Regions from separate parts of the Homo sapiens genome. Here regions 2 and 3 are each linked to region 1. The links come from fine-mapping of genetic effects on gene expression. A gene starts in region 1. Each other region holds a variant in brackets. All regions are shown on one strand. Distances are between the middles of the regions.

Region 1 (8,185 bases):
CATATCACAGGGACATTTCATTTGTATCTCTATGTATAAACAGTGGATATTATAAATATCATCGATATTTCATTTATAGCCCTATGTGGAAACACTGGATATTATATATATCACAGCTATATCTCATTTATATCTCTGTGTGGAAACGCTGGATATTATAAATATCACAGCAGGATTTCAACTTTATTCCTGTGTGGGAACAGTGGATATTATAAATATCACAGCGATATTTCATTTATATCCCTTTGTGGAAACACTGGATATTTTAGTATTTCATTCATATCCCTATGTGGAAACACTGGATATTTTAATACTTCATTCATATCCCTGTTTGGAAACACTGGATATTTTAATATTTCATTCATAGCACAGTGCGGAAACACTGCGTAATATAATATTTCATTCATATCCCTGTGTGGAAACACTGAATATTATAATACTTCATTCGTAGCATAGTGTGGAAACACTGGATATTATAATATTTGATTCATAGCACAGTGTGGAAACACTGAATATTATTTCATTCATAGCACAGTTTGGAAACACTGCATAGTATAATATTTCATTCATTGCACAGTTTGGAAACACCGGATATTATAATATTTCATTCATAGCACGGTATGAAAACACTGGATAGTATAATATTTCATTCATAGCACAGTGTGGAAACACTGGATACTATATTTCATACATAGCACAGTGTGGAAACACTGTATATTATAAATGTAACAGCGATATTTCATTAATATCACAGTGTGAAACACTGGATGTCAGTAGTGATATCGATGATGTTACAAACATAACACAGTGTGTTAACACTGCATTATCACCCTGGATGTCAGTAGTAATATCATGGATATTATGAATAATATCACAGGGTGCTAACACAGTGTGTTCACACCCTGGATATCAGTAGTAACATCATAGACATTATGAATAATATCACAGGGTGTTAACACAATGTGTTAACATCTTGGGTATCAGTAGTGGATCAGTATCAGGATATCATCCTGGATATCACAGGGTGATATTATTCATAATATCATGGATATTAATTGTATTAACACCCTGGATATCAATAGTAATACACTGGATATTATGAATAATATCACCGTGTGTTAACAACAGTGGATATCAGTAGTAATATTGTGGATATTAGGAATAATATCACAGTGTGTTAACACAGTGTGTCAACACTGGATATTAGTGATATCATGAAAAATATCACAGTGTGTTAACACTGGACATTAGTAGTAATATCATGAATATTCTGAGTAATATAACAGTGTGTTAACACTGGATATTAGTATTAATATCTAATGTGTGTTAGTAATAATATCACAGATACTATGAATAGTATCACAGTGTGTTAACATAGTGTGTTAACACTGGATATCAGCATTAATATCATGGATATTATGAATAATATGGTATGATAACACAGTGTGCTAACAAACACTGGATATTATGAATATCATAGATAATATTAATATCACAGTGTGCTAACACTGGACACTATGAAGATCATAGATATTAATATCACATTTTGCTAACACAGTGTGCTAACACTGGATATTATGAATATCATATAAATTATTAATATCACAATGTGCTAACACTGTGTTAACACTGGATATTATTATCACGGTGTGCTAACACTGGATATTATTAATATCATTGATATTAACACAACACAGGGTGCAAACACTGGATATTATTATTAGCAAGTCACAGGGTGCTAATACTAGATTTTATTAATATCATATTATTATTAACACATCACAGGGTGCTAACACTTGATATTATTAATATCATAGACATTATTAACACAACACAGGGTGCTAACACTGGATATTTTTAGTATCATAGATATTATTAACATTGCAGTGTGCCAACATTGGAAATTATTAATGTCACAAATATTGGTAATAGCACAGTGTGCTAACACTGGATATTATTAATATCACAGATATTAGTAATATCACAGTGTGTTAATACAGTGTGCTAACACTGGATATCACTAATATGATAGATAATATAGATATTAGTAATATCACAGTGTGTTAACAGTGTGCTAACGCTGGATATTATTAATGTCACAAATATTAGTAATATCACAGTGTGCTAACACTGAATACTATGAATATCATAGATGTTAGTAATACCACAGTGTGCTAACACTGAATATCATTAACATTACAGATATTAGTAATATCACAGTGTGCTACTATTAATATAATAATGTTAATACTATTGACACTATATTAGTAATATAATAGTGTTAACACTGTTATTAATATGAGAGTTAATACTACTAACACTATATTTTTAATATGATAGTGTTAACACTACATTACTAATATGTGTTAACACTATATTATTAATATAATAATGTTAATACTATTAACACTATATTATTAATATAATGGTGTTAGCACTATATTATTAATATAATAGTGTTAACACTATATTATTATTATTATTTGAGACAGAGTCTTGCTCTGTCGCCCAGGCTGGAGTGCAGTGGTGCCATCTCTGCTCACTGCAAGCTCCGCCTCCCAGGTTCACACCATTCTCCTGCCTCAGTCTCCCGAGTAACTGGGACTACAGGCGCCCCCACCACGCCCGGCTAATTTTTTGTATTTTTTAGTAGAGACGGGGTTTCACCGTGTTAGACAGGATGGTCTCGATCTTCTGACCTCGTGATCCGCCTGCCTTGGCCTCCCAAAGGACTGGGATTACAGGCGTGAGCCACCGCGCCCGGCCTAACACTATATTATGAAACACTATATTATTATTATAGTGTAGATACTATTACATTATTAATAGTGTTAACACTATTATCATTAATATAATAGTGTTAATACTATTAACACTTTATTATTATTAATTATAATATTAATATACGAGTGTTATTAATTATTAATATAATTATAATACTGTTAACACTATATTATTAACAATTATTATTAATATAATAGTGTTATTAATATAATATGTGTTAACACTATAATAGTGTTAACACTATATTATATTGTTAATATTATAGTGTTAACACTATTATATGATTAATAGTGTTAATCATGTATTATTAATATAGCAGTGTTAATAGTAACCCTATATTATTAATACAATAGTGTTAATGCTATTAACGCTATATTATTAATATAAGTGTTAACACTCAACACTATATTACTAATATAATAGTGTTAATAGTATATCATTAATATAATAGTGTTAATACTATTAACACCATATTATTAATACTATTATTATTCCCATTTTACAGATTAGAAGCCCAGGACCCAGGAAGGAGACACAGGAAATTTATTCAAAGTCCCCACGCTGGTAATGGCAGAGCTAGGATTTGAATTCAGATCCCTCCCGCTCTCTGTTCCTCCGCCCCCACACACCCGTGAGCGAAGCCGGTACTGTGGGCAGACGCCAGGGCCTGGTTTCCCCACCCTCCACCCGCCAGGTTTGCGGTGGCCGGGGCGGCAGGTAGGGAGGTGAGCCCGCGTCTCCTCCGCAGAGCTGGAGCTGGAGCTCCGCTCAGAGGCCCAGGCTCAGTGGGCTCCTCCCCCGGGTCGGGGCAACCCCCCGCCGGGGCCTCTGGGGCCAACGGAAGCTCCAGGAGCGCGGTGGAGCCTGGAGTGGAGGGCGAGGGTCCCACCGTGACCCGCCTGGAGGGCAGCCCAGCTCTGGGACGCGAAACCGCCTACGACGGTGCCGCAGGTGGAGGGAAGGGTAGAGGGGAGACCAGTATGGGGGAGAGCAAGGTGGCCCCACAGGTTGGGAGAGGATGTGGGGAAGTCCCCCTACCCACCCAAGGCCGAACATCGCCTAACTGGCTGTGGGACGCCCGGGGCAGGGGCTGGGGGCGGATGGCCTGGTTAGGGCCCAGCTTGGGGTCTTGAAAATATCCCTATGGCTTTGGGGCCACAGAAGGGCGGAGTCCTGGCATTCAGGGGAAAGGGCCGAGGACGGTTGTCAACGGGAAGGAACCTCTGACCCTACCCTGGGTCAATGTGCAGTCCAAGTTGCCACAAATGACCGGAGGAAACAGTGGGAAGGGAAGGTCTCTTTCCCATTCCAAACCAGGATGCCCTTCAGGTCGCCCACTTCCTTCATCCCCAGAGCAGCTGCCGACTTTCCTGTTAAGTGCCAGGGCCTGGGAGGTGCGGGGCTGCAGCTCAGGCGCTGAAGGGGGCCTAGGGTCCAGGAACCTCCTGCCAAGCCAGTGGTCCTCAGACGCTGGTCCAGGCACCACCACGGGGTACACAGCTTTTCTTACCTCCTGGTGTTATGGGTCCTTTCTGTTTTTTGAGACGGAGTCTCGCTGTGGCTGTGTCGCCCAGGCTGGAGTGCAGTGGCACGATCTCGCCTCACTGCAAGCTCCGCCTCCCGGGTTCACGCCATTCTCCTGCCTCAGCCTCCTGAGTAGCTGGGACTACAGGCGCCCCCACCACGCCTGGCTAATTTTTTTTTTTTTTTTTTTTTTTGTATTTTTAGTAGAGACGGGGTTTCACCGTGTTAGCTAGGATGGTCTCGATCTCCTGATCTCGTGATCCACCTGCCTCGGCCTCCCAAAGTGCTGGGATTACAGGCGTGAGCCACCGCACCCGGCCCATGGGTCCTTTAAAAAATAATAATTTGGCCAGACGTGGGGCCTCATGCCTGTAATTTCAGCACTTTGGGAGGTAAAGGTGGGAGGATCACTTGAGCCCAGGGGTTGCCTGGGCAACATAGCAAGACCCCATCTCAAAAAAAAAATTAGCCAGGTGTAATGGCATACACCTGTAGTCCCAGCTACTCGGGAGGCTGAGGCAGGAGGATCGCTTGTGCCCAGGAGGCATGAATGCACCACTGCACTCCAGCCTGGGTGACACAAGACCCTGTCTCAAAAAAGAACAACAACAAAAATTTGAATAAAAACCAAACCAGTGACAGTAGATAAGTTGCTTTGTTTTTAATGCTCTTGGCAAAATAAAAAGTTGGCAGTCGTATATTCCCCCATTCTCTCTCTCTTTCTCACACATGCACATGCCTATAAGAAAGCATTCTCTGGATCCACAGAATTCCAGATTTGGGAATCACTGAATTGAACTGCCGGCCATTGGTGGCTGGTGAGACTGTCCTGGCAGTGATGCAGTATTCTGGTCCCTGTGCCAGCACTGATGGGCTGTGGAATCCTCCACCAGTCATTCCCTCTCTCCAGCTCTCCATCTCTGCTTCTGTACAAAAGGATCTACCAATCCCCTCTTATATTCAAATATCTATGACCTTTCAGTCTGGCCTATATCCGTGCGGATCTGAAGTTGTGTATCCGAAGATGTAACCTTGTCCAGTGCTGGCACTAAGGGCTGCTTCAGGGAGGGACCTGGACTGGTGCCCAGGGAAAGGAGGACAAGGTCCTCATCACTGGAGAGTGGAGGGGGCAGTGGGAATGGGACAGATAAGGGGTAGTGCCCTGGGGTATACCTGGCCCCAAAGTAACCCCGGGCTGTGAAGACAAAAGCACTGCATCACATGATGTGTTTCTGTGTCTCTCTCCCTAGCAGTTCCAAGAGCCTCTGAGTTCCTGCCTTTTTTCATCTCTGAATCCCCACCATTGGCCTACATTGGGAGTGGGGCGACCTGTAAGTGCACAGTGAATTTTTGCTGAGGGAGTGGCTGGGAGGGCTGCGTGGAGTGGACAGCACCAAGCTGCACTTTTCAGGGGAGTGGGGTTTGGAAAATCTGGGGAGCAGAACAGGCACCCCCGCCCCCAGGAAGGAACCCAGGTGTATTAGTCTGTTCTCATGCTGCTAATAAAGACATACCCAAGACTGGGTAACTTATAAAGGAAATAGGTTTAATTGACTCGCACCACATGGCTGCAGAGGCCTCACAATCATGGCTGAAGGCGAATGAAGAGCAGAGTCACATCTTTCATGGTGGCTGGCAGGAGAGAGCTTGAGCAGGGGAACTTCCACTTATAAAACCATCAGATCTTGTGAGACTTATTCACTACCACGAGAACCGTATGGGGGAAACTGCCCCCGTGATTCAATTATCTCCACCTGGCCCTGCTCTTGACACATGGGGATTATTACAATGCAAGGTGAGATTTGGGTGGGGACACAGCCAAACCAAATCACCAGGTACAGAGGCCAGAGGAGCCTGGGGATGACGGTGATGTTCCAGGTGTGGAGGGAGACGTGGCAGGCGTGGGGACAGGAAGGTTGGAAGGTTGGGGAACTTTATGAAGGGAAAACTGAGAAGATGAGGAAGGCTGATGAGATGGAAGTGGGGTTGGGGAGAGGGAAGAACCAGCATGAGCTCAAGGCTAGGGTTTGGGTGAAGGAGAGAAAAAAAGGTAGAAAATAAAGGAGACAGAGATCACTTCTAGTCACATACAGGTGGAGATGGGGTAGACAGGAAGAGGTGCCCCCTATCAAATGAGAATGCCCAGTGTACTCCCATCTATACAGAGGACAGGATCAAGATGCAGCCATGACTCCTTCCCATTGAGTTCTAATACTAGAAGGATGCCTCAATGCCCTCTGGTCCAACAGACTTCATCATTTTAGATAGAAGGAAGTGGAAGCCCTGAGGTTGGGGTGACTTGTATGACCTGGAGAGTGGATGGGAGATGGAAAGGGGACATTTAAAGAGAGGGAAGGGCTGGGTGTGGTGGTTCAAGCCTGTAATCCCAACTCTTTGGGAGGCCAAGGCAGGAAGATCACTTAAGCTCAGGAGTTTAAGACACCCTGGGCAACATAGTTAGACCCCTGTCTCTACAAAAAATTAAAAAATTAGCTGGGCGTGGTGGCACGCACCTGTAGTCCCAGCTACTCAGGAGGCTGAGGTGGGAGGATCACTTGTGCCCAGGAGGTTTAGCCTGGGTGACAGAGTGAGACCCTGTATCTAAAAACAAAATATAATAAGGAAAGAAGGGAATAATTCAATTTTTCAAGTGGGAAGAAGAGAAACTAGAGAATGTCAGAAAGGAAGAGAAAGTACAAACATTTTCAAGTCACTCTGACAGCATCGAAGATGAACATGTGTTTACCTGTTTATAACCAGGGTACTTGGGTGTGGGGGGTACAGGAAGGGAGCCACACCTCTGCCCTCTGCCATTAGGCTTGTTCAGCCATAGCCATTGGTAGCTCTCAGAGACGCCCCCTTCCCTGGCTGCAGCAAGTGTCTGCATGGGCAAAGACGCCCCCTTCCCTGGCTGCAGTGAGGGTCTGCATGGGGATTGGGTAGAGGCCCCAGTGTCTGCACTGGGCAAGGTTTGCACAGGGTGTGGGAGCAGGGGAGGAAAGCATGCTCACTTCGAGGGCCTTGTGCTCTCTACTGCCCAGGCACAGCTTGAAAACCGTGATGCTGCCAAGCCCAGCCTGGCACAGGCAAGGGTCCCCAGGTCTGGCTTTGGGTAGGACTTGGAAAGAAAGACTGTCATCTTGGGGTGCACCTCCCTTGTCACATCTTCCTTTCACCTGATGCCCCCTTTCTGCACTGCCAGGTAGCGAGGGTCATCACAGTGCCACCTGGAGGCCTCTGGCCAGGCCCACCCTCCCTGCAGCTCCAATCACCGTCCCTGCTTCCTTCCTTCCCATTGCTGGATAACTCTCATTCCTCAGAGCTGCCAGGCTCAGCACAGACAGAGGGGAAAGCAGATTCGTTGAAACAATTTGTCCTGAAGTTGGGTGTGGCCTCCAGCCCCTTCTCCCACAGGGATATCTGAATTTTAGAAGTCTGCCCTCCATCCCTGCCCTCCCAACTTTAACCAAGCACCTGAGTGCTCAGCACTGTGTTGGACACTTTGGTATGCGTTATTTCATTTGGTCCTCTCAGTGGCAGGTGTTGTATTCTTATCATTGGGCAGGTGTTATAATATATCCTTCCTTATCCTTAGGCAGGTGTTATATCCTTCCTTTTCCAGATGGGGAAAGCAAGGTCCTGAGACTCTGAGCAACTTCCCCAAGATCACACAGCTAGGAAGTGATGAAGCTGAGACAAGACCAGCCAGCACTTACCCACCACGGTGTAACTACTCATTCAAAAGATGACATCTTTTGAAAATTTTTATTCTTTCAGAGACAAGGTCTTGCTTTGTTGCCCAGGCTGGAGTACGGCGGCATGATCATAGCTCACTGCAGTCTCTAACTCCTGGGCTCAAGAGTTCCTCCTGCCTCAT
Region 2 (8,185 bases), 430 kb before region 1:
AATTTTTTAAAATAATGTAAACTGAAACAATTTTATTGGAATTTTAGCCCCCAGGCTGAAAGCTTGGCAGGTCCCTGAGAAGGTAGGTGTAAGGACTCTGGACTTGGGGAGGACAGCATCTGAGGGAGCAAAACTGAGAAAAATGAGTATTTTGCTTACTGAACAACCTGACCTTGGCTGGGTACAGTGGCTCACGCCTGTAATCCCAACACTTTGGGAGGCCGAGGTGGGCAGATCACTTGAGGTCAGGAGTTCAAGACCAGCCTGGCCAACATGGTGAAACCCTATCTGTACTAAAAATACAAAAATTAGCCAGGCATGGTGGGGCACGCCTGTAATCTCAGCCACTCAGGAGGCCGACAGGAGAATCGCTTGAACCTGGGAATGGAGGTTGCAGTGAGCTGAGATTGCACCACTGCACTCCAGCCTGGGCGACAGAGCATGATTCCATCTCAAAAATAGATAAATAACCTGACCTTGTTCCTGTGCCCTGCCCAGAGAATGGAAGGAGGGAAGCATAAGTCTCACAAATGAATGGTTGAAGGACTCCTCTTTAGGAAAACTAACCAGCCCATGAAAAAAGATCTGCAGCTCTGGGCCAGGCGCAGTGGCTCACGCCTGTAATCCCAGCACTTTGGGAGGCCGAGGTGGGCGGATCACTTCAGGTCAGGGATTCAAGACCATCCTGGTCAACATGGTGAAACCCTGTCTCTACTAAAAATACAAAAATTAGCCGGGCATGGTGGCTTGTACCTGTAATCCCAGCTACTTGGGAGGCTGAGGCAGGAGAAGTCACTTGAACCCAGGAGGCGGAGGTTGCAGTGAGCAGAGATTGTGCCACTGTACTCCAGCCTGGGTGACAGAACAAGACTGTCTCAAAAAAAAATCTGCAGCTCTGATCGTTGGGATCACTTGTTGGAATGGCCAGGTTTCTGTGGGGTCACCCAGCAGATATCCACCAATGACAGGCCCCGCTCACAGCCTGAGGACCTTTCTATTACAAGCAGAGATCCAAGGACATCAGACATCTGATGGAAGCCTTTGCCATAGGCACACCAAACTAACAACAAACACCCCCCCAAGAATCAATGCATAAACAAAGCTAGGTCGATAGCACAGATAGGATCTTGCGCTAATGAAGAAGGAGGCTTGAAAAGGGAAGCCTGTGAAAACAAAGTGTCTCGAATTAAGTGACTGCAGAAATGAAAAGCCTGGAAGAAGAGATAAAGTAGAATACCCCAGAAAGTAAAAAATAAAGATGGAAAATAGAGAATGGGACAAGAAAATGAGAGGATCCGTTTCAGTGGGAAAAAAAAATGGTGGTGGCAGGGGAGATAATTCTATTTTTTTCTTTTTCTTTTTAGAGATGGGGTCTTGCTATGTTGCCCAGGCTGGTCTCAAACTCCTGGACTCAAGGGGTCCTCCCACCTCAGCCTCCCAAAGTGCTGGAATTATAGGCGTGAGCCACTGTTCCAAGCTGTTTTTTAAAAATTAAAAGGACAATTCTAGACTGCAAGGCTGATACTTGGATGTACAGAAAATAGGTTTCTATTCAGGACAGCACATTTAAGAATACTGGAGACACAACCTACAAATTTCAGTCAGTAGAGTTGAGACAGGGGAAGAGAGTCATGCACAAAATAATTGGCAATCAGAGTAGAAGACTTTGAACCCAACACTGAAAACTAGAAGATAATGATCGATGCTTGCAACATTCTGAAGGTCATAGTTTCCAGTCTAGAACACTTGTCTGCAGCTGGATTGTCAACCAGGAGTCAAAACAAAGTCCATGTTTTCAAAGGCCAGGTGCGGTGGCTCACACCTGCAATCCCACTGAGGTCAGGAGTTCAAGACTAGCCTGTTCAACATGGTGAAACCCCGTCTCTACTAATAAAAAAAATACAAAAATTAGCTGGGCGTGTTCGCGGGCGCCCGTGATCCCAGCTACTCGGGAGGCTGAGGCAGGAGAATCGCTTGAACCCGGGAGGTGGAGGTTGCAGTGAGCCAAGATCGTGCCACTGCACTCCAGTCTGGGTAACAGAGCAAGACTCTGTCTCAAAAATAAAAATAAAAAATAAAGTACATGTTTTTGGATGAGCAGTGTCTGAAATTTAACCTCCCATGCACCTTCTCTCAGAAGATACATATTAAAAGCCAGTGGGTCTCAGTGGCTCACGCCTGTAATCCCAACACTTTGAGAAGCCAAGGCAGCAGGATCGCTTGATCCCAGGAATTCAAGGTCAGCTTCCCTGTTTCCTGGATCCCATGCCTACCTCCTCATGCGATCGTTTGTTTTGGAGATGGGGTCTCACTTCATAGCCCAGGCTGGAGTGCAGTGGCACCATCATAGCTCACTGCAGCCTCCAACTCCCTGGCTCAAGCAATCCTCTCGCCTTGGCTTCCCAAAGCCAAATTAATTAAAATTTTAAAAGCCAAATTAATTAAACAATTAGCTGGGCATAGTGGCACACATCTGTAGACCCAGCTACTCAAGAGGCTGAGGCGGGAGGATTGCTTTAGCAAGGCTGCCCTGAGCTGAGCTGTGATGGTTCCACTGCACTCCAGCCTGGGCGACAGAGTAAGACCTTGTCCCTAAAATAAAGGGGAAAACAAGCACAGGCAGGTGTGAGATCCTGCAAACAGGGACACTGACCCAGGAAAAGTGAGTGGAGCCCCCACAATGATGGTAAAAGCCGATCCCAGGACAATAGACGTGTACCAGAGGATGAGGACAACTATTCCAGGCTGGAGCATGACAGAGCTCTCCAGTGGGTGTGGATGACAAGCATGTTGGTAGATTACTGACGTATTACATTCAGCAGGAGGTTTACACAGGCTGTAAGAATTTGATATGAGGTAAACCCAAGGAAAACAAAGCATATGAGTGAAGATGTGGATTAATACTAAGGAAAACACACTTCTGAATATAATTTACATCATTATGATAAAATCTGGACATCAAGCTAACAAAAATTAGATATCTACGATGCGAAGAAAGGGAGGTATAAAAAAATGGCTATCTCTTCTGTAAATTCGAACATCGTCTTTAGATGTAGCATGAGCATAATGTTTAGAATTACAAAAGCATAGACTAGAATAAACAGACCAAAGAGTAGAAAGTTCTGGCCTCTGGGGATGGGGTGGAAGAGGCATGGGTCCTCCTTTGCTTTAAATATCTATAGCTCTGTAAAATATGTACATTGTATCAAAGTTCATTTAAGTTATAAAAATTAAGTATACAAGAAAGTCATGGTTCAAAAATAATATGTAGGCCAGGTGCGGTTGCTTATGTCTGTAATCCCAGCACTTTGGGAGGCTGAAGTGGGAGGACCATTTGAGGCCAGGAGTTCAAGACTAACCTGACCATAGTAAGACCCCATCTCTACAGAATTCTTTAAAAGGTTAGCTGCATGTGGTGGTGCTGCCTTGAAATATAGAAACACACACGCACTCTCTTTCTTTCTAGGAAGAATAAGAGAGATTGAGTTTCTAGAGAAAATTATCTTAGATCTTGTCAGTGTCAGGATATTAATTGCCAGAGGAAAGAAGGCCAGTAACACTGTCCCTGCAGCACTAAGAACCAATGATATTGTATCTGCAAGTCGAAGTCTGTGTAGAGACCAGGCATGTTGGCTCACGCCTGTAATCCCAGCACTTTAGGAGGCTGAGACATGTGGATCACCTGAGGTCATGAGTTTGAGACCAGCCTGGTCAACATGGTGAAACCCTGTCTCTACCAAAAATACAGAAATTAGCCCAGCATGGTGGCAGGCACCTATAGTCCCAGCTATTTGGCAGGAGAGGCAGGAAAATCACTGGAACCTGGGAGACGGAGGTTGCAGTGAGCCTAGATCACATCACTGCACTCCAGCCTGGGTGACAAGACCGAAACTCCATCTCAAAAAAAAAAAAAAAAAAAAAAGAAAAAGAAAAAGTCTGTCCGGATAACTATAAGACCATTCTACTCTGTCTTGAAGGTTTTGCTTTAAGACCTTTTAAAAGGCAATTACTAAACAAATGTTCTTTATTTTTTATTATTTTTTTTGAGAAGGAGTTTCACTCTTGTTGCCCAGGCTGGAGTACAATGGCTCCATCTCAGTTCACTGCAACCTCCGCCCTCCTGGGTTCAAGCAATTTTCCTGCCTCAGCCTCCCAAATAGCTGGAATTACAGGCATGCGTCACCATGCCTGGCTAATTTTTTGTATTTTTAATAGAGACGGAGTTTCACTGTGTTGGCCAGGCTGGTCTCAAACTCCTGACCTCAGGTGATCCACCCACCTTGGCCTCCCAAAGTGCTGGGATTACAGGTGTGAGCCACCACACCCAGCCTAAACAAATGTTCTTAGGAGATGAATTCCACATGGTTTTAAGATGCAAGTCGTTTATCTGAAGTTCAGATAGAGAAACGTGAAAGTGTTGAACATTTTATTAATGTCAAGTTTTAAAAGCTTCACATTTGGGTTACACTAAGATAGAGGACTGCTGCTTCTTAAAGAAGTTATCCTTTAGCACTGGGTTGTTGGTTTAGGAGGTAGGGAGCTTGGCTATTTTTTTGCTAAGCATTCATAATCTATAAATTCATAATCTTGGTCTATGACTTGGCTCAGTAAAGTTTGGCTCTCATCTTCTTCCTTCAGGAGAGAATAGACACTGTTATACCTCCAGGATTCTCAGCACATTATCACTGCACATTTGGCAAGATGCACCTTGTAACAAAATTGACCCTCTTAACCATGTTTAAGCAGGTAGCTTAGTAGCAATTAAGTACATTCGCATTGTTGCGCAACCATCACC[A/ACCAC]CCACCCACCTCTAGAACTTTTTCATCTTGCACAACTGAAGCTTTGTACCTATTGCATCAGGGGTCCCCAACCCCGCATCCGTGGCCTATTAGGAACTGGGCCACACAGCAGAAGGTGAGCAGCAGGCCAGCAAGCGAAGCTTCATCTGTATTTACAGCCACTCCCCATCACTCGCATTCCCACCTGAGCTCTGCCTCCCTGTCAGACCAGCAGCAGCATTAGATTCTCATAGCAGCACAAACCCTATTGTGAACTGCGCATGCCAGGGAACCAGGCTGCATGCTCCTTATGAGAATCTAGTGCCTGATGATCTGTCAACTGTCTCCCATCACCCCCAGATGGGATCGTCTAGTTGCAGGAAAAGATCTCAGGGTTCCCACTGATTCTGCATTACGATGAGCTGTATAATTATTTCATTATATATTACCATGTAGTAATATAAAGTGCACAATAAATGTAATGCTCTTGAATCATCCCGAAACCATCCCCTCACCCCCCAGCCTGTGGAAAATTTGTCTTTCACAAAAACTGGTCCCTAGTGTCAAAAACGTTGGGATCACTGTATTTAATCACTCCTCATTCCCTCCTCCACCCAGCACCTGGCAACCACCATTCTACTTTGTCTCTACAGATTTGATGACTGCAGGTACCAAATCTAAGTGGAATCGCATTGTATTTGTCCTTTTGTGAGTAGCTTGTTTTTAAATGCAGTTTTGATAGACATAGAACACCGTCCTGACAATGAGTAAGCAAATGATAGGTATAGTTACTACTTCTAGTCCAGAAATCTTTACCCTGGAGTTCTTGGATCAAGCCCCAGGGATCAAACCCCCTTTAAAAGAGGTCTCTTATTTATTATTTTTTTTTTTTGAGATGGAGTCTTACTCTGTCGCCCAGGCTGGAGTACAGTGGCATGATTGCAGCTCACTACAACCTCTGCTTTCTGGGTTCAAGTGATTCTGCTGCCTCAGCCTCCTGAGTAGCTGGGATTATGAGCACCCGTCACCACACCCAGCTAATTTTTGTATTTTTAGTAGAGATGGAGTTTCACCATGTTGGCCAGGCTGGTCTCGAACTCCTGACCTCAGGTGATCCACCCGCCTTGGCCTCCCCCAAAGTGCTGGGATTACAGGTGTGAGCCACTGCACCCAGCTGAGCTTCTTATTTATGAGGTTTTCATAGGAACCATTAACCTGGAAAATGCTTATCACCATTATCACCATTCTAGGTCTGGTCTCCTTTGAGAGCATTTTTTTTCTATTTTAAGACAGTCTCGTGCTATTGCCCAGGTTGGAGAGCAGTGGCACAATCACAACTCAAGCAATCCTCCCACTGTAGCCTCCCGAGTAACTGGGATTACAGGCACATGCCATTACACCTGGCTAATTTTTGTATTTTTTGTAGATATGGGCTCTCACTGTGTTGCCCAGGCTGGTCTCGGAGCTCCTGGACTCAAGCAATCCACCTGTCTTAGCTTCCCAAAGTGCTGCAATTATAGGCATGAGCTACCACACCTGGCTTGAGAGCTTTATTTATTTATTTATTTATTTATTTATTTATTTATTATTTATTTTGGAGATGGAGTTTTGCTCTGTTGCCCAGGCTGGAATACAGTGGCACCATCTTGGCTCACTGCAACCTCTGCTCTGGGGTTCAAGCTATTCTCCTGCCTCAGCCTCCTGAGTAGCTGGGATTACGGGCACAAACCACCACACCCAACTAATTTTGTATTTTTAGTAGAGACAGGGTTTCGCCATGTTGGCCAGGCTGGTCTTGAACTCCTAACCTCGTGATCCATCTGCCTCAGCCTCCCAAAGTGCTGAGATTACAGACATGAACCACTGCTCCCAGCCGAGAGCATCATCTTGGTCCCAAATCAAGACTAACTGCCCCAGCTAACCACACCATCCACCTGGTCATATTGATTGTATGGTCCTTTATTTTGCTGGTAAGTCACCTTTGACACCTAAGAGAAGTGTCACTCTGTAAACTCCTAGCCCCATGTTGATCTGGTCATGAAATAAATGTGAGGTTGCCTTCCTCATATGAAAAATTTCTGCTGGGCGTGGTGGCTCACGCCTGTAATCCCAGCACTTTGGGAGGCCCGAGGCAGGCGGATCACGAGGTCAGGAGATCAAGACCATCCTGGCTAACACGGTGAAACCCCGTCTCTACTAAAAGTACAAAAAATTAGCCGGACATGGTGGTGGGCGCCTGTAATCCCAGCTACTTGGGAGGCTGAGGCAGGAGAATGACGTGAACCCAGGAGGTGGAGGTTGCAGTGAGCCAAGATCGCGCCACTGCACTCCAGCCTGGGCAGCTGAGCGAGACTACGTCTCAAAAAAAAAAAAAAAGAAAGAAAGAAAGAAAGAAAAGAAAAATTTCTGATATAAGTGCAAATCAAACCACAATGAGATACCACTTTATACCCATGAGATTAGCTATTACCAAAACACCTAGAAAATAACAAGTGTCGGCAAGGGTGTGGAGAAATTGGAATCCTCATGCATTGTTGGTAGGGATGTGAAATGGTATATCTACTGTGGAAAAGAGCGTGGTAGTTCTTCAAAAATTCAAAATGGAATTACCACGTAATCTAGCAATTCCACTCTAGGTATATACTCCAAAGAATTGGGCCAGGTGCGGTGGCACAGACCTGTAATTCCGGCACTTTGGGAGGCCGAGACGGGTGGCTTGCTTGAGCTCAGGAGTTTTAGACCAACCTAGGCAACATGGTGAAACCCCATCTCTACAAAAAAAATACAAAAGTTAGCTGCCGGCATGGTGGTGCATGCCTGTAGTCCCAGCTACTTGGGAGCCTGAGGTGGGAGGATTGCTTGAGCCCAGGGAAGTCAAGGCTACAGTGAGCAACCATTGCGGCCATTGCCTTCCAGCCTGGGTGACAGAGCAGGACCCTGTCTTTACAAACAAAAAAAAATTGGAAGCAGGGACTCTAACAGGCTTACACACCCATGTTCATAGCAGTGTATTCACCATAGCAAAATGGTAGAAGAAACTCACATGTCGATTGACAGGTAAATGAATATATATAATGCAGCATATACATTCAATGGAGTGTTAGCCTTAAAAAGGAAAGCAATCCTGACATGCTACAACACGGATGAATCTTGAAGATGGTATGCCAAGAGGAAATATATCAGTCACAAAAGGACAAATACTGTACAATTCCACTCATGAGGTCCCTAGAATAGTCAAATTCATAGAGACAGAAAGCAAAATGATGGTTACTAAAAGGGCTAGGGGAAAGGTGTGTTGGGGACTTTGTAGTTAACGGGTAGGGAGTTTCAGTTTGGGAAGATAAAAACTGTTGTGGAGACGGGCCGGGTGTGGTGGCTCACGCCTGTGATCCCAGCACTTTGGGATTACGC
Region 3 (8,185 bases), 37 kb before region 1:
TGCACAATGCTTTTGCCTATCCCTGTTTCTGCATAGATTTTAGTCTTCCCACCAGGGACGCAACTGTCAGTTTCCTCCGTCTCTCTCGGTTCTATTCCAATCTGCTCATCTCCCCTCCCGTCCCCGCTTTCCCCAAGGACCTACTGAGATTTCGATCCCACAACTTAGTGGGTCCCATCTCACCCAGGCCCCGCAATCCTCGCCTTCTACTTGTCAGCGTTGTACTACACTCTGAGCAGGCACCCCTGTGCTACTCACGGAAGCGGGACCATTAGGTCGGCCATTCCTCCTCACCCCACGACACGCACCCACTGGGTCGGGCCGCCTCCTTGCAGGGAGTCTCAAGGATGGGCTGGCGTCAGGGAGGGGCCCAGGGGGCGCTTTCCCAACACTGGTCGCAGTCATTGTTGGTATAACGGCTAGAGACGCCCAGTGAGTTAGCATGGAGGGCAGTGGGACCGGAAAAAGACGTGGAAAAGCTGCGAAAACGAGCCTTCGAATCATGGACGCGCGGGCCCAGCTCCTCCTCCGAGTTCCTCATCCGGGGCCGTCACTCACATCCGGGGCCCTCACTCACATCCGGGACCCTCATCCGGGGCTCTCACCCACATCCGGGACCCTCATGCCTGGGCGGAGGAGGGGGGGCCCTCATTCGGGACCCTGCACTCCGTCGCCGGAAGTGCCACCGAGAAGCGCCGGCCTCGGGGCTGTCTACAGCGGCCCGGGAGAGGCTGTGGTGGCCCCGAGCGCGAGTGTGTAGGTGACAGGACAGCGGCCAGGCCCGCCCCTCCCCTCGGTGAGTACCCGGAAGCCGTTTTGGGGTCGCAGCGGGGTGGCAGCTTGTTTTGCCTTCACGGGAGTAGAAGGAGGCGGCGTCCGGCCGCGGCCGACGGTAGTTCGCTTCCCCGAGAGTGCGCGGAGGCCCGGGTGCGAGGAGGGCCTGTTTCTCTTCAGCCCTGGTTCATTCACCTCGCGGACCGAGGGCCCCGCCGTCAGGAGCCGGCGACCGTGCCCTGGTGCGAGCTGGTCTGTATGTCCTCACTGGTCCTTTTGGGACTTTGCCTTGGCCTAAAAGGGAAGTGGGAGGAGGGCAGCGCCGGGCAAGGCCTTCTGAGGACCGAGCTGGGAGCCGGGCAGGGGCCCAGGGCGAGGGTGGTGGGAGGGGGACGGCACCCTCATGCGTCCTTGGGCCTGAAGGACGCCGCTCAAACCTGTTCGAACCGCAGCTCTTACCTGCGTTGCTCTCAGGATTCCGGGAAAAGGCCGGTCTAGCTGGTCTGAGTTAGCGAAGGGCCTGACCCCAAAAGTGGAGTTTTATTCGCCAAGCCCGTGTAGTAAATCGGAGTGGGCTGACGGTGTTACCAAGACATTTCCTAGGGGGCCTGCTGTTTTATTTATTTAAATGAGTTTATTTACGTAAACGCGGGCCTGTCACGGTGGTTCACGCCGTAATCCCCGCACTTTGGGAGGCCGAAGTGGGAGGATCGCTTGAGGCCAGGCGTTCGAGTCCAGCCTGGGCAACATAGCGAGACTCCCATCTCTGCTAAAACAAAATTAAAATAAAATGAGCAATCATAACTAGCATTTTTCTCTGGGCACCAACTTGAGCCTCCAAAGACGATTGTAAATTTTAAATATTTTGTTTTGTTTATTTGAGGTGGGCTGTCACGCTGTCATACAGGCTGGAATGCAGTGGCGCAGTCATAGCTCACTGCAGCCTCTACCTCCCAAGCTCAAGCGATTCTCCTGCCTTGGCCTTTGGAGTAGCTGGAACTACAGGCCTGGGCCACCTAATTTTTTTTTTTTTTTTTTTTTTTGTAGGGACGGGGTTTCACCATGTTGTCCAGGACGGTCTGGAACTCCTGAGCTTAAGGGATCCACCCGTCTGTGCCTCCCAAACTGTTGGGATTACAGGCTTGAGCCACCGCACGTGGCCAATTTTAAATATTTTAAAGTTTCCACAGAAAGCTTTACACTATTAAATTGTACCGTGTTAATTTTTTTAATGCCACAAATTCCAAATTAGAGACTCTTCTATGATTTGGTTCTTAAGTATTTAAAGCTGAAGCATATCCATATTTCTTTTTCTTTTTTTTCTTTTTTTTTTTTTTGGGACGGAGTCTCACTGTGTTGCCCAGGTTGGAGTGCAGTGGTGCAATCTTGGCTCACTGCCACGTATGCCTTCTGTATTCAAGCAATTCTCCTGCCTCAGCCTCCCGAATAGCTGGGATTACAGACCCGCACCACCACGCTGGCTAATTTTTGTATTTTTAGTAGAGAAGAAGTTGCACCATGTTGATCAGGCTGGTCTTGAACTCCTGACCTCAAGTGATCTTCCCGCCTCAGCCTCCCAAAGTGCTGGGATTACAGGCCACTGCGCCTGGCCCCATTTTTCTGTTACTTATTTAGGGTGGTTAATCATTATCAACTAATTTTTATTGAATATCCATAGTGTGTAAGATCCTTTGCAAAGTCCTGACGATATAAAATGATGAAATGCTTTAACTTATTACAGTAATTTCTCTTAATCTTACCTTGCAGTGATGGTCATTGTCCTCCAGAGCAGTGATGGAGGAAATACCAGCCCAGGAAGCAGCAGGGTCACCAAGGGTCCAGTTTCAGTCTTTGGAGACCCAGTCTGAGTGTCTGTCCCCAGAGCCTCAGTTTGTGCAGGACACCGACATGGAACAGGGACTCACTGGGGGTAAGGCAGAGAAAGCACTTCCGTCTGGGAGAGTGGGAGTGCGGAGGGGCTCCCGAGGGGGCTCCTGGGCCTGGTTTGAGAGAGGCCAAGAACTGGAATAAGAACATGGTCCCTAGAGGGAGGAATGAAAGAGGGGGCAGATGTGACTCAGTTCAGTCCTAGTCTGAGCCCCTTTATTAAGGATAGCTCATCTTTCTCAAATAAGCAGAGTGATGGCTGCTTACTCGCTGTGGTGGTTTTTCCTTCAGGCAACCTTCACTTCATCCCAGTTCTCACATCCAGAATAATTTCTAAGATATGCTGCTTTTGCCACATCTCACAGTCCTTTCCTGGCTCTCACTTCCTCTTAGGTTCAGGACCTTTCTTTCCCCTGTTCCCTTCACTTAGTTTTTCTTTGCTTTGTCACCTGCCATCCATTCTGTTGTAACTGCAGTGTTTTGTGACTAGACTAAATTTGGTCAAGGAAGCAACCATTTAATTCCTTGGTTGAACACAATGCCTGTATGAATGTATATATACTGTATTTTGACTACGCAGTCACACTTTGCTGTATCGTATAGGTAGGTTGGTCTTTTTCTTCCTTTGTTTTATAAGAGCTGTGTCTTAGATTGCCTGTGGTTAACTCTAGTGCCTGAAATAACTTGTGTGTCACCCACACAGATCAAGTGCCACAATGTGTAGAGTGCTGTGGGGGATTGTGGGACTGTGGAAAAGATTTCGAGGAAACAGATGACCCTTTCTTGTTCTTGGGGGCCTTACACACTGGTTGAGACAGCACCCATTCACAAGAGAAACGCTGATCAAGTGTCTAGAACAGTGCCTGGAAAGGGTCAGAAGTCTGCTAAATAACCCTAGCCCAGGACAAGTCCCCACAAGTCTTTATGCTTTGCTTTGCCCATCTGCAAAACAGGTATAGTCTTACTCTTCTGTAAGAGGACTGTCATGTGATGAAGATAAAGTGAAATACAAGCTTTCCTAAGAAAATCCTGTATCACAGGTCAAAACACGCATAAGGCATGCAAGTACTGAGACGAAGCAGAGTAGACACACCCAATACCTGAAAAATGTTCATTGGTTTTACTAGAGTATTGAGGAGGGTCCTGCTGACACCCCTTGGGCTGGAGAGGCCTCCTCTGAAAGGGAGCCCTGGGAAAGGGCTGCTCTCACTCTTCACTCCTTTCTCCTCCCTCAGCTCCACCTGTTCCTCAGGTGCCTGCTCTTCCCCGTGAGGGAAGCCCAGGAGACCAGGCAGCTGCGCTCTTGACAGCCAGGTACCAGGTGAGCTGAGGAACCCTCTGCTTTTCCTCAGGGACTATTGCTACTGATGGAGTGTGGCCTCTCTCTCATCCCATCTGTAGACCTTGCCTGGAATTTTTTTCAATAGCAGACTCCAGTTTGGGAATTGATCCTCTTCGGAGACCTGGACTTCACATAAACCAACTTCCCATCTCCCCAGTGCCATGAGCAAACTCTGTTTTCTCTTTGTCCATGGTTGTGTGATGGGTGCTTATTAGATGTTTAAGGGTTATGGGCTTTATTCCGTAGGTTCTAATCTGTTCTCCCTCCTCCTCAACGTAAGTACACAGTGGATACCCTCTCTATGATCTTCATTCTCTGGCCATGGTGCTACAGTGTTCTCATTCCTCAGAGCAGCCAGGATGTGTTATTTCAGGAGTTTGTGACATTCGAGGATGTGGCTGTGCACCTTACTCGAGAGGAATGGGGATACCTGGACCCTGTTCAGAGGGACCTCTACAGAG[A/T]AGTGATGTTAGAGAATTATGGGAACGTGGTCTCACTGGGTAAGGACTTCCTTATTATTCGGTTTATCTATTTGAATTTCTTTACTTTCTTGTTTCTTCCTAAGTATAAGGTCTCTGAGAAGGTCTGTAGAGTGTGGCTTAGATTCCAGGACTTAGAACCTCTGAATCCTTATCTTTCACATCGTCTTCTCCGGGAGGGGTAATTAACGTTTGTTTGGGGGTGCCAAGAAGAGACATTCTCCTCCTTATCCCCAGTTCATGTTTATGGCCATTGTGGGGCATCTTTTCCCTTTTAGCAAAGGGAAACTTTCTTGTGCTTTGCTTGATTTCTCACCGTTCTTTTCTTTTCCATTTTTGTAGGAGAGACCCCAGGGTGGCCTCCCAACCTCCAACCAGACACTTTCCTCTTTGTTATCTCAGTGTCCCTGTATTAGAGAATTGAAGAATTTCCCATTTTTCTAGGAAAAAGAAATGCCGTTTATTTAAAAAGACAGGCTAAATTCCTTCTTGTTGAGTAGTCCCTCACCCCTTAAGATCCCCAGATGTATCTCCAAGCAGGCAGAACTTGAGATGTCATTTGAAGGCATGACTCACTGTGAGTACATTTCAGTGAGTCACCCAGAATGGTAATCCCACGTAACCACACCCAGGGCAGCAGAAATCTCAGATGTTTACCCCATGCTGAGGTGGGGTCAATGCTTAACTCATGTCTCTCCCTTGTCATTTTGAAAGGTACAGTGGGAAGCTGGGATTAGCCAAGCTGTAGTGCTGCTGGGAAGCATCAGTGGGGTTTGTCGGCAGCTCCCTTGGTGTGAGCATTGTTCCTTTTTCTTTAGTTTATTTTTTATATTATATTATATTTTTTATTTTATTTTATTTTTAGATGGAGTTTCACTCTTGTTGCCCAGGCTGGAGTGCAGTGGTGCAATCTCAACTCACTACAACCTCTGCCTTCCAGGTTCAAGCGATTCTCCTGCCTCAGCCTCCCAAGTAGCTGGGATTACAGGCATGGGCCACCACGCCCGCCTAATTTTGTATTTTTAGTAGAGACGGGGTTTCACCATGCTGGTCAGGCTGATCTCGAACTCTTGACCTCAAGTGATCCACCTTCCTTGGCCTCCCAAAGTGCTGGAATTACAGGCATGAGCCACCGCACCCAGCCTCCTTTTTCTTTAGTTTCTTGCTTGCTTCTGCACTCTTCTTTTTGTGTGTGTAAATACTGAATCATGCATTTTCTTTTCTTTTTTTTTTTTCCGTTGGCTTTGTCTATGCTGGTGGCATCCAGGGCATTGCTTTGTCTCCCTGATTATGCTCAGGATTCAAGGTCTTCTTATTTGTGGGGAGGCAGGCTGCCCACTGGGACGGTTTTTAGTGTGTTTTCCATTCCTGGCTCTTTAATCTTTGTAGGCATACTTCTCCGCCTTCCCACCACCCGGATTCATAGTGTGAATTCCTGCCCGGCCCTGAGTCATACCCAGGCAAGTGCTTTCTCTGGAGAAACACTTGCCGTCCTTACAGCAGGAATCTCCAAGAGATGGCCCAAGTATCGGCTTCCCATCGATATTGCTCGTCCCTGCTCGGAAACTCCTTTTCCACGATTGTGAGATATTAAAATTGACTGATGGAATAGAAGCTCCCCAGGATGCCACCACTGTGTAAAATCGCAGCTCCTCAAATTACCTCTGTTTAATTTCAAATGTTAGGGTCCAAGGAAGCCCTCTGTTGCAACCAGATATGTTTTGAACCCAGTTCATTCAGAAACCATGGTTGGTGGTCATCATCTACTTGTATTGTGAAAAACCAGAAATTCCAAATTCAGCTCTTCAGTTATGGTCTTTTCATATTATTTTAGAATGTGAAACTTATGCTGTGTGCCCCTCCTTTTATGTGGCGAACACAACCTGCCCCGTATGGTGCCTAACTCTCCTGTGAACCCTGGGCTTCCCTCATGTTTAACATTCTGGTTTCCTCCTTCCTTGAAGTCCCTGTGGCCCTCTTCAAGGTCCTACCTTCCTACCCTTTATTCTTTGTGGTTCTGTACAGATTGATGCAATTATATTGCCTTTCCTGATTAAGTGTTCCTTACTCTGTCCTTGATGGAGGGGAGAAGGGAGGGCAAAGAAGTTAAATTTATTTCAGGGCATCAAATTGAATATCTACTTAATAACTTTGTAAACTGTAAAGTGACATACATATAATTGTAAAGTACTGTTAATTTTATCTAATAATTACAGAGTTTCCAACAGTTAACCTGTCTACTTTTTGGAGTAAAGAAACTTTGTAGCAGTTTAATGCAGTCTAATAGCATAGTATGCTATAGACTGAACTTTATCCCATTTCCTCTCTTATCTCTGCACTGCACACTCGACATGCAGTCGACATGCATACACACTTTTACACATACAAGAGACACGCACAGTGCAAGAAAGCCTTCTACTCATCTTGCTTTTGTGATCAAGTTAGCAGCATCTCCTTAGCAGTTATTTTTACAATCCTTGGGAAATCATTTTCATATTTTTGGGTTCAGCAGACTTCATCTGAAAATTAACCCATTTATGCCTAGTGTTCCATTATTGGAACACTAAGCTTGCGGGAATTATTTATGTCCCGCTGCTCAAGGTCATCGCCAAGGTCTGATTTTTAACAAAAATTGCAACCTCCAGCATAACTGGGTTAAGTTTATACATTTATTAATTTAACTTTTTAGGGTTGTAAGACTTTTTTTTTTTTTGAGACGGAGTCTTGCTCTGTTGCCCAGGCTGGAGTGCAGTGGCACCATCTCTGCTCACCGCAAGCTCCACCTCCCGGCTTCATGCCATTCTCCTGCCTCAGCCTCCCAAGTAGCTGGGACTACAGATGCTCGCCACCATGCCTGGCTAATCTTTTCGTATTTTTAGTAGAGATGGGGTTTTGCCATCTTAGCCAGGATGGTCTCGATCTCCTGACCTCGTGATCCGCCTGTCTCGGCCTCCCAAAGTGCTGGGATTACAGGTTGTGAGCCACTGCGCCTGGCCTCCAGATTGTATTTGTCACAGACATTAGAACGTTGGTCCTTTGCTTAAGTGCTTCCACTATGCAGCAGTAAATATACAGAGTACAAATAGCTGAGTAAAGAAGTCGGTAATAAGTAATTTTCGTTACCACATAATTGAAAAAAGAACATACTCCATTGATGATGAATGAACAATTTGCCTCTGGGTCACTATCCATAGGGAAGTTACCTGTTACTTAGTGTGGTAGATTAAGACCCATAAAGGGGACCGAGTTGCTTTTCACATGGGTAAGTGTGGCAGGTGCCCTATTAGATGATGGCCTCAGAAGCATGCTTGTTAAAATTCTAATTGATATTAACTGGGTCAGTAGATTGGGAATGTTTGGCACATACTCTCTGCTTTTTTAACTTGATGTCATGAAGGACTACAGTTATTTTGCACAGAATGTTTTCCATTGTCACAGCTATTTAGTATTTATTGAGCAGCCAATATGTTATTGGGTACTATATATATGTATGTATACACACACACACACATATGTATATACACACACACAGACATAGGACATTTATATGTGTGTGTGTGTGTGTGTGTATATATATATATAAAGGATATGTGTATATATCTCATTTAATCCTTACCATAACCCTGTGAGCAGATGACACTGCTCCTATTTTATATCTGAGGAAACTGAGGCTCAGAGAAGTTAAGTGATCTTTGCAGGATCA

What was found.
Region 2: its variant is fine-mapped to the expression of TMEM225B in whole blood (TOPMed, PIP 0.96).
Region 3: its variant is fine-mapped to the expression of TMEM225B in whole blood (TOPMed, PIP above 0.99). The same link has a PIP of 0.9 or more in blood mononuclear cells.

What each region holds. Positions count from the first base shown.
Region 1 is chr7:99,594,647-99,602,831 of GRCh38, forward strand. TMEM225B (transmembrane protein 225B) reads left to right here and starts at 3,621. Exons shown (of 6, transcript NM_001195541.3): 1 at 3,621-3,735; 2 at 5,559-5,639.
Region 2 is chr7:99,169,163-99,177,347 of GRCh38, forward strand. KPNA7 (karyopherin subunit alpha 7) reads right to left here. Exons shown (of 11, transcript NM_001145715.3): 11 at 4,410-4,632. The coding sequence ends at 4,546. Among named protein-coding and RNA genes, the nearest start is that of SMURF1, 29 kb to the left of the region's middle. The variant A/ACCAC (reference allele first, on the strand shown) is at 4,796.
Region 3 is chr7:99,557,992-99,566,176 of GRCh38, forward strand. It overlaps ZNF655 (zinc finger protein 655), which reads left to right and starts at 651. Exons shown (of 3, transcript NM_138494.3): 1 at 651-796; 2 at 2,542-2,704. The coding sequence starts at 2,569. It also overlaps a transcript of FAM200A not described here. RefSeq lists enhancers at 296-425, 456-725. The variant A/T (reference allele first, on the strand shown) is at 4,465.